3 linked regions of the Homo sapiens genome follow. The protein of the gene in region 2 purifies or fractionates together with the protein of the main gene of each other region. This does not show direct contact. Each region holds a gene or a part of one and is shown on either strand. Other genes may lie near its edges. The genes, in order: ACO2, IDH2 and SCARB1.

Evidence for each region.
Region 1: the proteins of IDH2 (region 2) and ACO2 purify together in Homo sapiens (affinity purification with mass spectrometry, with the first as the bait; one large-scale study listed by BioGRID). This does not show direct contact.
Region 3: the proteins of IDH2 (region 2) and SCARB1 fractionate together in Homo sapiens (co-fractionation; one large-scale study listed by BioGRID). This does not show direct contact.

Annotation. Positions count from the first base shown.
Region 1 is NC_000022.11:41,471,984-41,475,630, reverse strand, and holds part of ACO2 (aconitate hydratase, mitochondrial precursor), read right to left. Parts: intron 1-3,647. UniProt on the Homo sapiens protein: Catalyzes the isomerization of citrate to isocitrate via cis-aconitate.
Region 2 is NC_000015.10:90,088,825-90,092,471, forward strand, and holds part of IDH2 (isocitrate dehydrogenase [NADP], mitochondrial isoform 1 precursor), read right to left. Parts: intron 2,821-3,647; coding exon 2,729-2,820; intron 1,821-2,728; coding exon 1,655-1,820; intron 1-1,654. UniProt on the Homo sapiens protein: Plays a role in intermediary metabolism and energy production. It may tightly associate or interact with the pyruvate dehydrogenase complex.
Region 3 is NC_000012.12:124,776,832-124,780,478, forward strand, and holds the end of SCARB1 (scavenger receptor class B member 1), read right to left. Parts: intron 1,756-3,647; coding exon of another isoform or gene 1,636-1,755; 3' UTR 25-1,635; downstream 1-24. UniProt on the Homo sapiens protein: Receptor for different ligands such as phospholipids, cholesterol ester, lipoproteins, phosphatidylserine and apoptotic cells. Receptor for HDL, mediating selective uptake of cholesteryl ether and HDL-dependent cholesterol efflux.

The sequences.
Region 1 (3,647 bases), on a different chromosome or scaffold from region 2:
GAGCCACCACGTCCGGCCCATTTGCTGCTTTTTAAAGGCTACAAGAAGTCTCTCTACAATACCTTCCTTCCTTCATGCTGAGAGGCCCAGAGCCCACCACTGCCTTCCAAACCAGGTGCTGGGAAAACGAGGCAAGTCAAAGAAAGCTGGAGCCAAGGAAGACTCAACACTCTCTTCCCACTAGCCAGGCACAGTGGCTCGCGCCTATAATCCCAGCACTTTGGGAGCTCAGGAGTTCAAGACCAGCTTGGGTGACATGGCAAGATCCCCATCTCCACAAAAAATAAAAAATTAGTTGGGCATGGTGCCACATGCCTCTAGTCCCAGCTACTAGGGAGGCTGGGGTGGGAGGACTGCTTGAGCCCAGGAGGTCAAGGCTGCAGTGAGCTATAATTACACCACTGCACTCCAGCCTGGCTGACAGAATGAGGCCCTATCTCAAAAAAAAAAAAAAAAAAAAAGGAAAAAACAATTTTTTTTTTTTTATAAAAAAGGTAAGCATTTACAAGATGGCCCTCTTGGACACACACCAGGTTTCACAATAAGACCAGATAGGACAGAGTCCACATGAGACAATATGCTCATACTCGACTCAAGTGAGGGCCCCTGGGTAAGACACTTGACGTCATCTGGCTTTCTCACCTGTGAAATAAAGTACTTGAGAACTGATGAAAGAATCAAAAATTTATCAATGAGATTCTGCCCTTAGCTAATTTTTATAAGTACTGTGCAGGCCGGGTGCAGTGGCTCACGCCTGTAATCCCAGCACTTTGGGAGGCCGAGGCAGGCAGATCATGAGGTCAGGAGATCGAGACCATCCCGGCTAATAGTGAAACCCTGTCTCTACTAAAAATACAAAAAAAAATTAGCCAGGCATGGTAGCGGGCGCCTGTAGTTCCAGCTACTCAGGAGGCTGAGGCAGGAGAATGGCGTGAACCTGGGAGGCGGAGCTTGCAGTGAGCCAAGATCGCGCCACTGCACTCCAGCCTGGGTGACAGAGTGAGACTCCGTCTCAAAAAAAAAAAAAAAAAAAAAAAAGGCTAGGCGCAGTGGCTCACGCCTGTAATCCCAGCACTTTGGGAGGCAGAGGCGGGCGGATCATGAGGTCAGGAGATTGAGACCATCCTGGCTAACACGTGAAACCCGTCTCTACTAAAAACACACAAAAAATTAGCCAGACGTGGTGGCAGGCGCCTGTAGTCCCAGCAACTCGGGAGGCTGAGGCAGGAGAATGGCATGAACCCAGGAAGCAGAGCTTGCAGTGAGCCGAGATCGCGCCACTGCACCCCAGCCTGGGTGACAGAGCGAGACCCTGTCTCAAAAAAAAAAAAAAAAAAAAAATGACTGCAAACACACGACCACTGAATTCAATCAAGCTCACCCATCCCTCAGTTACTAAGACCCCAAACCCAGGAGTCACCCTTATTCTCTATCCCTCCCATGCGCCAACCCATCTGCCTCCAAATATATCCCAATTTTGAATACATCTCATTATCTCCACCCCCCAGATCCCTAGTCCCAGACTCCTCTGCCATTCCTGGGATGACTCCAACAGTCCCCCACTGGTCTCCCTGCCTCCTCCTTTTGACCCTCTATGGTCCATCATGCACGCAGCAGCCCAGATGATCAGATCACATCACTCCCTGGCTTAAAATCTCCCAGTTTTCACTACACTTGGATTTCCTTACCGAAGCCTGCCTGACCCTAGCCCCAGCCTCTTGTTCAGACCTTTCGCTCCTCAGGACACTGTAGCAACACTGGCCTTAGCTCTTATCCTCAACACACTCAGCTCATACCTAGGTGGGTGCTCTGCACATGCTCCTTCTATTTGAAGTCTCCTCCAAAAATGGTAAACAGCTGCGTTCGTATCATTTAAGTCCCAGTTCAGATGTCACCTCTTCTACGAGGTCTTCCCCAAACACCCCAGTTAAAAATGCCATGTTCCCACCCCTATTCTCTCTACCTTATCTTCCCCACAACACTCAGTAATACAATATTCTTATTTTTCTACGTAATTTCCCCAGGACAACAATTTAAGCCCCACTATTCTTGTTCACTACTGCACCCCCAGTGTCTAGAACAATGCTAGGCAGTGCTAGACATTAAGCTTTTTCTTTCTTTTTCTTGAGACAGAGTTTCACTCTTGTTGCCCAGGCTGGAGTGTAATGGCGTGATCTCGGTTCACTGCAACCTCCACCTCCTGGGTTCAAGTGATTCTCCTGCCTCAGCCTCCCGAGTGGCTGGGATTACAGGCATGTGCCACCACACCCGGCTTATTTTGTGTTTTTATTAGCTATTGGGTTTCACCATGTTGGCCAGGCTGGTCTTGAATTTCTGATCTCAGGTGATGCATCTGCCTTGGCCTCCCAATGTGCTGGAATTACAGGCGTGAGCCACCGAGCCCAGCCAAAGCTTTCAAAGAACACTGTGAAGCAGTTGGTTTGAAAGGTAATGCTGTGCTCCCTTAATCCTCAGGATGGTGTGTCTGTTCCCTCTGTCCACATCTAAGATGGAAGCTTATTTACCAATTCATTCACTCAATTCTAATAACAACTGATATCTGCGAAGGTTATCACAGTGACCATACAACCAGAATCATCTGTTTCACAATTCAAACCAAGATTTTATTTTAACATGGCACAGAGTTTCTGCCAAATATTTTTGTAGTTAACTGCCATCACAAATTTATATGCAAGAGGTTACATGACTTCCCCCAAGGTCACATGAAACCTCAGCACCCCAGTTATCTCAAGGCAAAACCAAACACCTAATAAACATACTTGCAACTGCTCAGCCCCTCTTGTGTACTACTCAGTCATATGCACAAAAATAAATGCTAAAAACCAGAGAATAAATGTGGTTTTTCAAAAATCTCACCTCCTTAGCTGGTTGCAGTGGCTCACGCTTGTAATCTCAGCACTTTGGGAAGCCAAGCCAGGATTGCTTGAGCCCAGGAATTTGAGACTAGCCTGGGCAACATAGCGAGACCCCCATTTCTTTAAAAAAACAAAACAAAATAAAACAAAACCCACGTTCTATTTTCTTATTTCTAATCTTACTACCTGGTAGCAGGTACTGTCAAACGAGAGTACACATTCAACTTGGCACTGTTCTGAGGTTATGGTGCCCTGATCCACAGGCTGAGCTCGATGCCAAAGGGAAGCAGCATAGTGCCAGTTGCTAAGCCCTCAGGCTTCGGAATCAGACATGTCCAGATTCAAACCATACCTACTAACAACTACTGATAAAGCCCCAGGCAATTTTTTTTTTTTTTTTTTGAGACGGAGTCTCACTCTGTCACCCAGGCTGTAGTGCAGTGGCGCGATCTCGGCTTACTGCAACTTCCGCCTCCTGGGTTCAAGGGATTCTTCTGCCTCAGCCTCCCGAGTAGCTGGGACTACAGGCGCCTGCCACCACACCCAGCTAATTTTTGTGTTTTTAGTAGAGATGGGGTTTCACCATATTGGCCAGGCTGGTCTCGAACTCCTGACCTTGTGATCCACCTGCCTTGGCCTCCCAAAGTGCTGGGATTACAGGCGTGAGACACTGCACCCTGCCACAAATTTATTTAGCAATTATATAGCCCTTATTAAGTACCAGGCAGGGTTCTAAATACTTTACAACTATTACATGATTGAAACAGACAT
Region 2 (3,647 bases):
AGCCAGACGGGGGTCCTAAAATTCTTCATGAGGAAGGCAGTAGAGTCTAGAGTGCAAATGTGTGGGCTCTGGAGTCTGCCAATTTTTTTTTTTTTTTTTTTTTTTTTGAGACAGAGTTTTGCTCCTATTGCCCAGGCTGGAGTGCAATGGCGCGATCTCGGCTCACCACAACCTCTGCCTCCTGGGTTCAAGCGGTTCTCCTGCCTCAGCCTCCCGAGCAGCTGGAATTACAGGCATGTGACACCACACCAAGCTAATTTTGTATTTTTAGGAGAGATGGGGTTTCTCCATGTTGGTCAGGCTGGTCTCGACCTCCCAACCTCAGGTGATCCACCCGCCTCGGCTTCCCAAAGTGCTGGGATTACAGGTGTGAGCCACCATGCCCAGCAAGTCTGCCAGTTTTAATGGTGAGGCTTACAAAAGTGGCTCAACCAAAGCTGTAAAAAAAAATTACTGGAAAAATAACCAGCCTAAGTGTTGTCGTGAGGACGAAATGAGCTCGTGTGTAAAGGGCCTAGAACGGTGCCCGGTCCATGCTAAGTGCTCTGTTGGCCATTATGATTCCCACATCACACATGGAGGGAGTACAGTCCGGGGGAAGGACTTGTCTGACGAAGCCTGACAACACACTGCCCACTCCACATGCTCCGGTCCTGGCCCCAACGCCACCCCAGTTCCTAAGGCTGTGACCCTCTCCTGCCTTGTCCATAAATGGGGATACACAACTCCCAAGGTTCAGGTGAAATGAAGAGCTCAACACTCAAATGATCCCAGTGCTGTGGGTCAGGCATGACCTGCAGGACAGGGGCAGGCCTGGGGAATTTGCAGATGTATCTCGAGTACTTTCCGCCAGCTCCCTCCAACTGTGGAAAGTAGGAAGAGAGAGCTCAGAAAACTCCTCAACCATCCTTTCTCGAATTATCCAAACCTGGCCCCTCTGCACACACACTGCTGTGACTTCATGGAACCCTCGAGAGCGGCCCCAACAGCCAAGGACCAGAAGCCAGTCTAGGCCTGGTGGGGGCACCTCTCAGTGACCCTGCATGACCATGGGGACAGAGGCAGACCTGCAAGGCCAAGCCAGTGGCAGGAGGGCAACAGCAATGTTCCCCAGAGGCTGCTGAGGCTCTGAAGGACACAGGCCTTACACACAGCACTCCTCTGCACAATCTCTCTGCATACCTGCCTGCAAGACTGTCCACGCCAGAATGGACTACTGCCCAAAGAAGCCATCCTTACTGTGACCACATCAGCATTACCTTCCTCCTCCTCCTCCTCCTCAGCCCTGTCACCGATGACACCTACCACTGTCAGAGCCAGAGTGAAGCAGAAACACCACTGGCCTGGGAGATGGAAGACATGGATTCTGTTCTCAGCTCTGCTGTGCCCTAACCGTGGAACCTGAGGCCAGCCCCTTACCCACGCCTGCCCCAGCCTCATCAAAGGTGACCTCTGAGGCCCCACTGTCCACCAGGCACACACAGGGAGACTGGCCTCAGGTGCAGTTGGCCTCAGGAAAGCCCCAGCTCTGGAGCCTCCCAACCTCCCAGTCCCGAGATGAGTGACATGGCCAACTGCCCCACCCCAAGTCTGGAGAGGCCGGTGGGAGAAGCCTGTGACCCTCCCTGGCCCGCCCACCTCCACACCCTCGCACCTTCCACACGGGCCTCATCAGGGGTGATGGTGGCACACTTGACAGCCACACTGTACTTCTGGGTGGCCAGTGCAGAGTCAATGGTGACCTGGTCATCAGTCTGGTCACGGTTTGGGAGCCCGAGGTCAAAATACTTTAGCTGGATGTCCACGTGGGGCAGGATGAGCTGGGGACAGAGGGCCAGAGCAAGGCGTCACCCCAGTGACTCAGGGACATGACAACAAAGGGCAGGATAAGAAGTCTGCAGGCCATGGCAGGGGACAGTCAGTCAAAACAGGGATGAGTGAAGGCCAGTGGAGGGGCGCAGCAGAAAGCTGGAGTCAGCCATTTCTCAGTGGGGCCTGGCCAGAGCTGGCAGAGGCTGGGGCTTTGGAGAGAGGTTGGCAGGCCAGGCCGCAGTCTTTTGGAGGGTTCTTCCTCCACTGTGCCTGTGTGCCCCCCTCACATGGCCCATCAACTCAGCCAAACCCCAACCCCAAGTACATCTAGATTTCTCTATACAACTGGTTTCCTCTTCTCAAGTGCTTTGAGATCTTACAGTTGGAAGTGACAGTTCTCAACCTTTGTCCCATGAACGCACACACAGTGTGGGGCCTTCACAAGGACTACATGCTCTCCTGGACATACATAGACCACGGCAACTTTGGAGAAGCCAAGCGGCCACTCTGGGACCCCTTTGCCATGGTGGCTCGTCACAACTGCAGGCTGGGTCACTGCCCTACACACCAGCCCTGTTCCCTTTTCACTCCTTTTCAAGAAGTGAGGCAAAACGTAGGGGATCAAGATGGAAATGATACAGGATTAACCTTGAAGCTTCTCAAAGTTGACAGAACGTGTGGGATCTGGCACCATCACAACACGGACTGCTGGGGACAGGCCCCCGCCTGACGACTTCTGAACAATTAGTGGACCAGATGTGAAAGAAGGGTAGACAGAGGGAGAGAAACAGAGCTGCTGCTGCCTACCAGGACAACGGGGGGGTCCTAGGGACCTGCAGTCCAGAAGACCCTGTGGGACAGAACAATCCCTGGCCAGCCCACCTGGAGAGCCACCCACTTCAGGAGGGGGCACTACCTTCTCCTTGATGAACTGCCAGATAATACGGGTCATCTCATCACCATCCATCTCCACCACGGGCTTCGCCACCTTGATCCTTTTGTCGGCATCTAGAAGCAGGGACACACAGCGCATCATGCCCCTGGGGAGGCTGGAGGGGGGCCCTCTCCTCCCAGCCAGGCCCGCCCTTCACCAGGAGACAGTGGCAGAAAGCCAGGGCTCCAGCTGCCCGGTGTCCACTCCCCCGTCTGCAAATCAGCTCCCTCACTGCTTAGAGCAGGGGTCCCCAACTCCCAGGCCATGGACTAGTACCGTGGGCTCTGGAGAGAGGTCAGCAGACCAGGCCACAGCCTTTAGTGCAGGTCCACGGACTGTTGGGAACTGGGCCACACAGCAGGAGGAGAGCTGCAGGTGAGTGAGCACTACTACCACCTGAGCTCATGCCTGGGAACTGCGCACACGAGGGATCTAGGTTGCATACTCCTTATGAGAATCTAATGCCTGATGATCTGTCACTGTCTTCCAGCACCTCCAGATGGGACTGTCTAGTTGCAGGAAAGCAAGCTCAGGACCCCCCGATTGTACATTATGGTGAGCTATATAATTTTTTCATTATATATTACAATGTAATAATAATAGAAATAAAGTGCACAATAAATGTAATGCACTTGACTCATCCCAAAACCATCCCCGCTGCCCACCACCCTGCCACCCGTGGAAAAATTGTCTTCCATGAAACTGGCCCCTGGTGCCAAAAACTTTGGGAACTGCTGGTTTAGAGCACCTGGATCCATCCATCCTTACTTACTTCCTTTCCTTTCTTTCCTTCCTTTCCTTTCTTTCCTTCCTTCCTTCCTTTCGTTCCTTCCTCCCTTTCTCTCTCTCTTTCTTGGCAGGGTCCTGTTCCATTGGTCAGGCTGGAATGCACTGATGCCAT
Region 3 (3,647 bases), on a different chromosome or scaffold from region 2:
GTCACAAGAAATAAAAAAAAAAAGTTTGCTTCAACTTATATATTTATGTTGCAGGCAAGTATAGGAGTGATTAATAAAAGGCTTAAAAGCATCAAATATAAATATCATTTAGATAAAATTTTAGGAGGGAAGAAGAAAGGAAATACAAGTTTAAGGGGAAAAGGGCTAACATTTCTGACCATAAAAGAGCTTGTTCGTATATTCTTTGAAATGTTCGGCAGTGAATACCCTCTCCTCTCCTAGTTAGATCCCAGCGGGCACACTTAAATACTGATGAAATGGTCTCATATTCAAACATCAACGATGATGACAATCGGAGAAAATTCCATCCTTTGCAATGATCTACACTTAAGATGAGAACTTTTAGATGGCTCCAATCTGTTCTCTTACCCGCTTCTCTTCTTCACCATTTATGTAACGAGCAGAAAGCAAAGGCCTAGAACAACACGGGGCATGTCCTATGGGCACCAGGATTTGTAGATAAATGCACAGAAACACATCCAGGGGGCCCCATGCAAAAGTGGCAAAAGCGTCTGCACTGGGGGCTGTGGGATGGGACTCAGACCCTGCTGCTTCTAAACAAGGGCGTACTCATGCAGTATTTCTATGAAACTCAACATTGCACAAGGTTGAAATTTGAAAACAACAGGAAGGTAAGCCAGCAGCCCGGCCCTGGGAGAGACGCTCTTGGCAGCCACCAGAAAGGAGCTATTGACCAAGAGAAGAGGAGCCCGGAACTTCCCAGAGGCCCCCACCCCCACGACCTCAGCAAACAAGGCTGTCACAGAGGCAGGCATCCCATTTTTTTAAACGTTTATTACTTCAAGAGTGAATTATTTTTCAAAGATGATAAAACTCATTTCTATTCCAGTAGAAAAGGGTCACAGGTTTGCCCCAGGGTCCAGGAGCGCCCGGAAGGCAGGGCCCCCAGGCCTCTTCACCTCAGCCTGGGCACCTATAATCTGAGGGACCCTGTGAGGGGGTGGGGGCAGCTCGGGGGCACAGCCTGCGGCCACTTCGGCCAGAGAGTGGCCGGCTCAGTCCATAGGATGATGTCAGTTTAGGCTGGAGGAAAAGGGCGCCAGACAACCCGATGCAGTGCCTGTGAAGACTTCGGGGGGATCAAAGTCCGGCCGGGGTGGGCGGAGACCCTCGGGCAGCTGCACAGGGCATCTTGTGCTCACTCCATTGTTTTCCGAGGCCTGTGTAAAGGCGCTTTGCCTGGCCTGGCAGGTAGACCAAGGCCAAAGCTCGTGGCCAGGGCCTGGGCACTGAGTCCCCACTGAATTTGGCACAGGAAGGCGGCACTCCCAGCCTGGCCCGTCCTGCATGGGGAGCCACCACACCGGGACTGCAGTGTTTCACCTTGGAGGGGAGGAAGCCTGGGCCCAACGGCTGAACGGGACAGGCCAGGCTCACCCGAGGAAGGGGACGCAGGACCCACAGCCCCTGTGGTCAGGCCTGTGGGCCACGTGGAGAGAAGGTTCCAGAACAGTGCTTGTTGACGAGCCTCTCCCTACAAGTCCCTTCAGCAGCAGCTCCATCCCTGAGTGTCTGCACAAGCCTGCACGCATGTGTGTATGTGTGCCAGGGCGTGTGTGCAGGTGTGCAACAGGCACATGGCAGCTGGGAGGCTCAGGCTGTGGGGCTGGGGGGCTGTCCGCTGGGAGAGTCCGGGAGAAGCGGGGTGTAGGGGCTGGGGGGCCGGTCAGGCCCAGCGGCCAGGCCTGGCTGGCTCACGGTGTCCTCAGGACCCTGTGGAGAAAGGCAAAGCTGGGTGACCACCCACGCCCTGTCACCAAACCCCACCCTCATCCCCGCCCACCACAGCCCTGTACCCACATCCCCAGCAGAGACTCCACCCCCGCCACCAGGCTGTCAGAAGTGAGAAGAGACTGGAGTCACCTATAGACTCCTGGAATGACTCCAAGGGCCTCTTCATCTCACTCAACACCCGCCTGGCCTCCCCGACCTCCTTTAGAGATGGAGAAACTGAGGCCCAAAGAGACTTAATACAGTGAGGGGCAGAGCAAGGGGGGCGGCCTGTGTGCAGCACAGTCAACATGGAACAACCGGGGCAAGCTCTGTCCCTCAGGAGGAGAACGTATGTTTATGTGTTGATTTATTTTTTATTTTTTAGAGACGGTCTCTCTCTGTCGCCCAGGCTGGAGTACGGTGGTGCCATCATGGCTCACCACGGCCTTGAACTCCTGGGCTCAAGTGATCCTCCCACCTCGGCCTCCCAAGTGGCCGGGACAATGACACGTGCCACCACCACGCCCGGCTCATTTTTTAATTTTTTGTAGAGATCAGGTCTATGTTGCCCAGGCTGGTCTCGAACTCCTGGGCTCAGGCGATCCTCTCACCTCAGCCTCCCAAAGCGCTGGGATTCCAGGCGTGAGACACCATGCCTGGCCTGTGTTTTTAAACCCATGTCACAGGACGGTATTCAGCCTGAACAGTATTCCTGAACAGAAGACAGGGAGGAAAGCCAGCCACACAGCAATACACGCAGCAGGATGCAGCTTCGGTCACATTCAAAAAGTGACCTCATGCTCATGGCTGCGCACATGCAGATTCAGAAAAAACAAACCCACGTGCCAAGTTCCTGGCCATGGCTGCTCAGGGTATGCGGGGCGCAGGACGTGGGGAGGGGGACGAGGGCCACCCAGGGAACGAGTGAAACCAAGGGCATGAGATGCTGGCCATCTTCAACACTGACAGCTGTCAGCAATGGCTGCGTCTGGGTGAGGGGAACTGGATACTGTCATTTGTCTAGTTTGACAGTTGTAGAAAATTTCTCAACTTAAAAATTAAAAATACAGATAATGCTAATGATAAGAGTGTGGGGTGAGCCTTCGTCCCACTAAGCCCCCTGCCTCCCTTGCCCTGAGCAACAGAGGCCTCCCTGCCCCGGTGGCTGGGGCTGGAAACCGCTGCCCACCTCCGCCCACCTGTGCTTGCTTCACCACGGGGTAGGAAAATCAAACTCCTGCTCAGGGCAGAGAGCGGGCACAGGGGCCAGGGTCTGCTGCACTGAGCCAGGCGCGGGGGAGGTCAGCCCCGCCCCCACACCACCCACTGAGGCAGCACAGGACACCCACAGGTGGCTAGACCTTAGCCATGTGGGCCCAAAGAGCCGTGACTTGAGAAGGTCTCACTCAGAAGTAGAAAGGGGAAACCACCCCTAGGCTGTAAAAGAACCCCTTGTCTTTCCCAAGGAAGACACGTGGAACAAAACCCGCAGGTGCCAGAGGGTGAAGCAGGTTCCTCCTCCTTCCCCTCCTCCTCCTCCTCTTTGCCACTTGTTTGACTGAGGAACATGGACTTGGCGTGGAAGAAAGATCGGTGAGAAGCTAAGAAAGGTCCAGGAACATATCCCTGAAGGGCCACCTGGACAGTTGTCCAGGCTGTTCACTGCACAAAAGGACCCAGCTGAAGGGTTACAGACCAGTGGACACACAGTTTACCAAGCCCCCTGCCCTACAGCAGGCCTCATCTGCCCAGAGGGGCTGTCTTTTTCTTATTTATATAAAAATATCTGTTTTCCCCCCTTCTCCCAAGCAAGGCAGCCCCTCAGGGCCATCCCCATACCCAGGTACAGGGCAAAGGTGTGGGGCCTTCCCCAGGGACTCAGGCCTGAGACT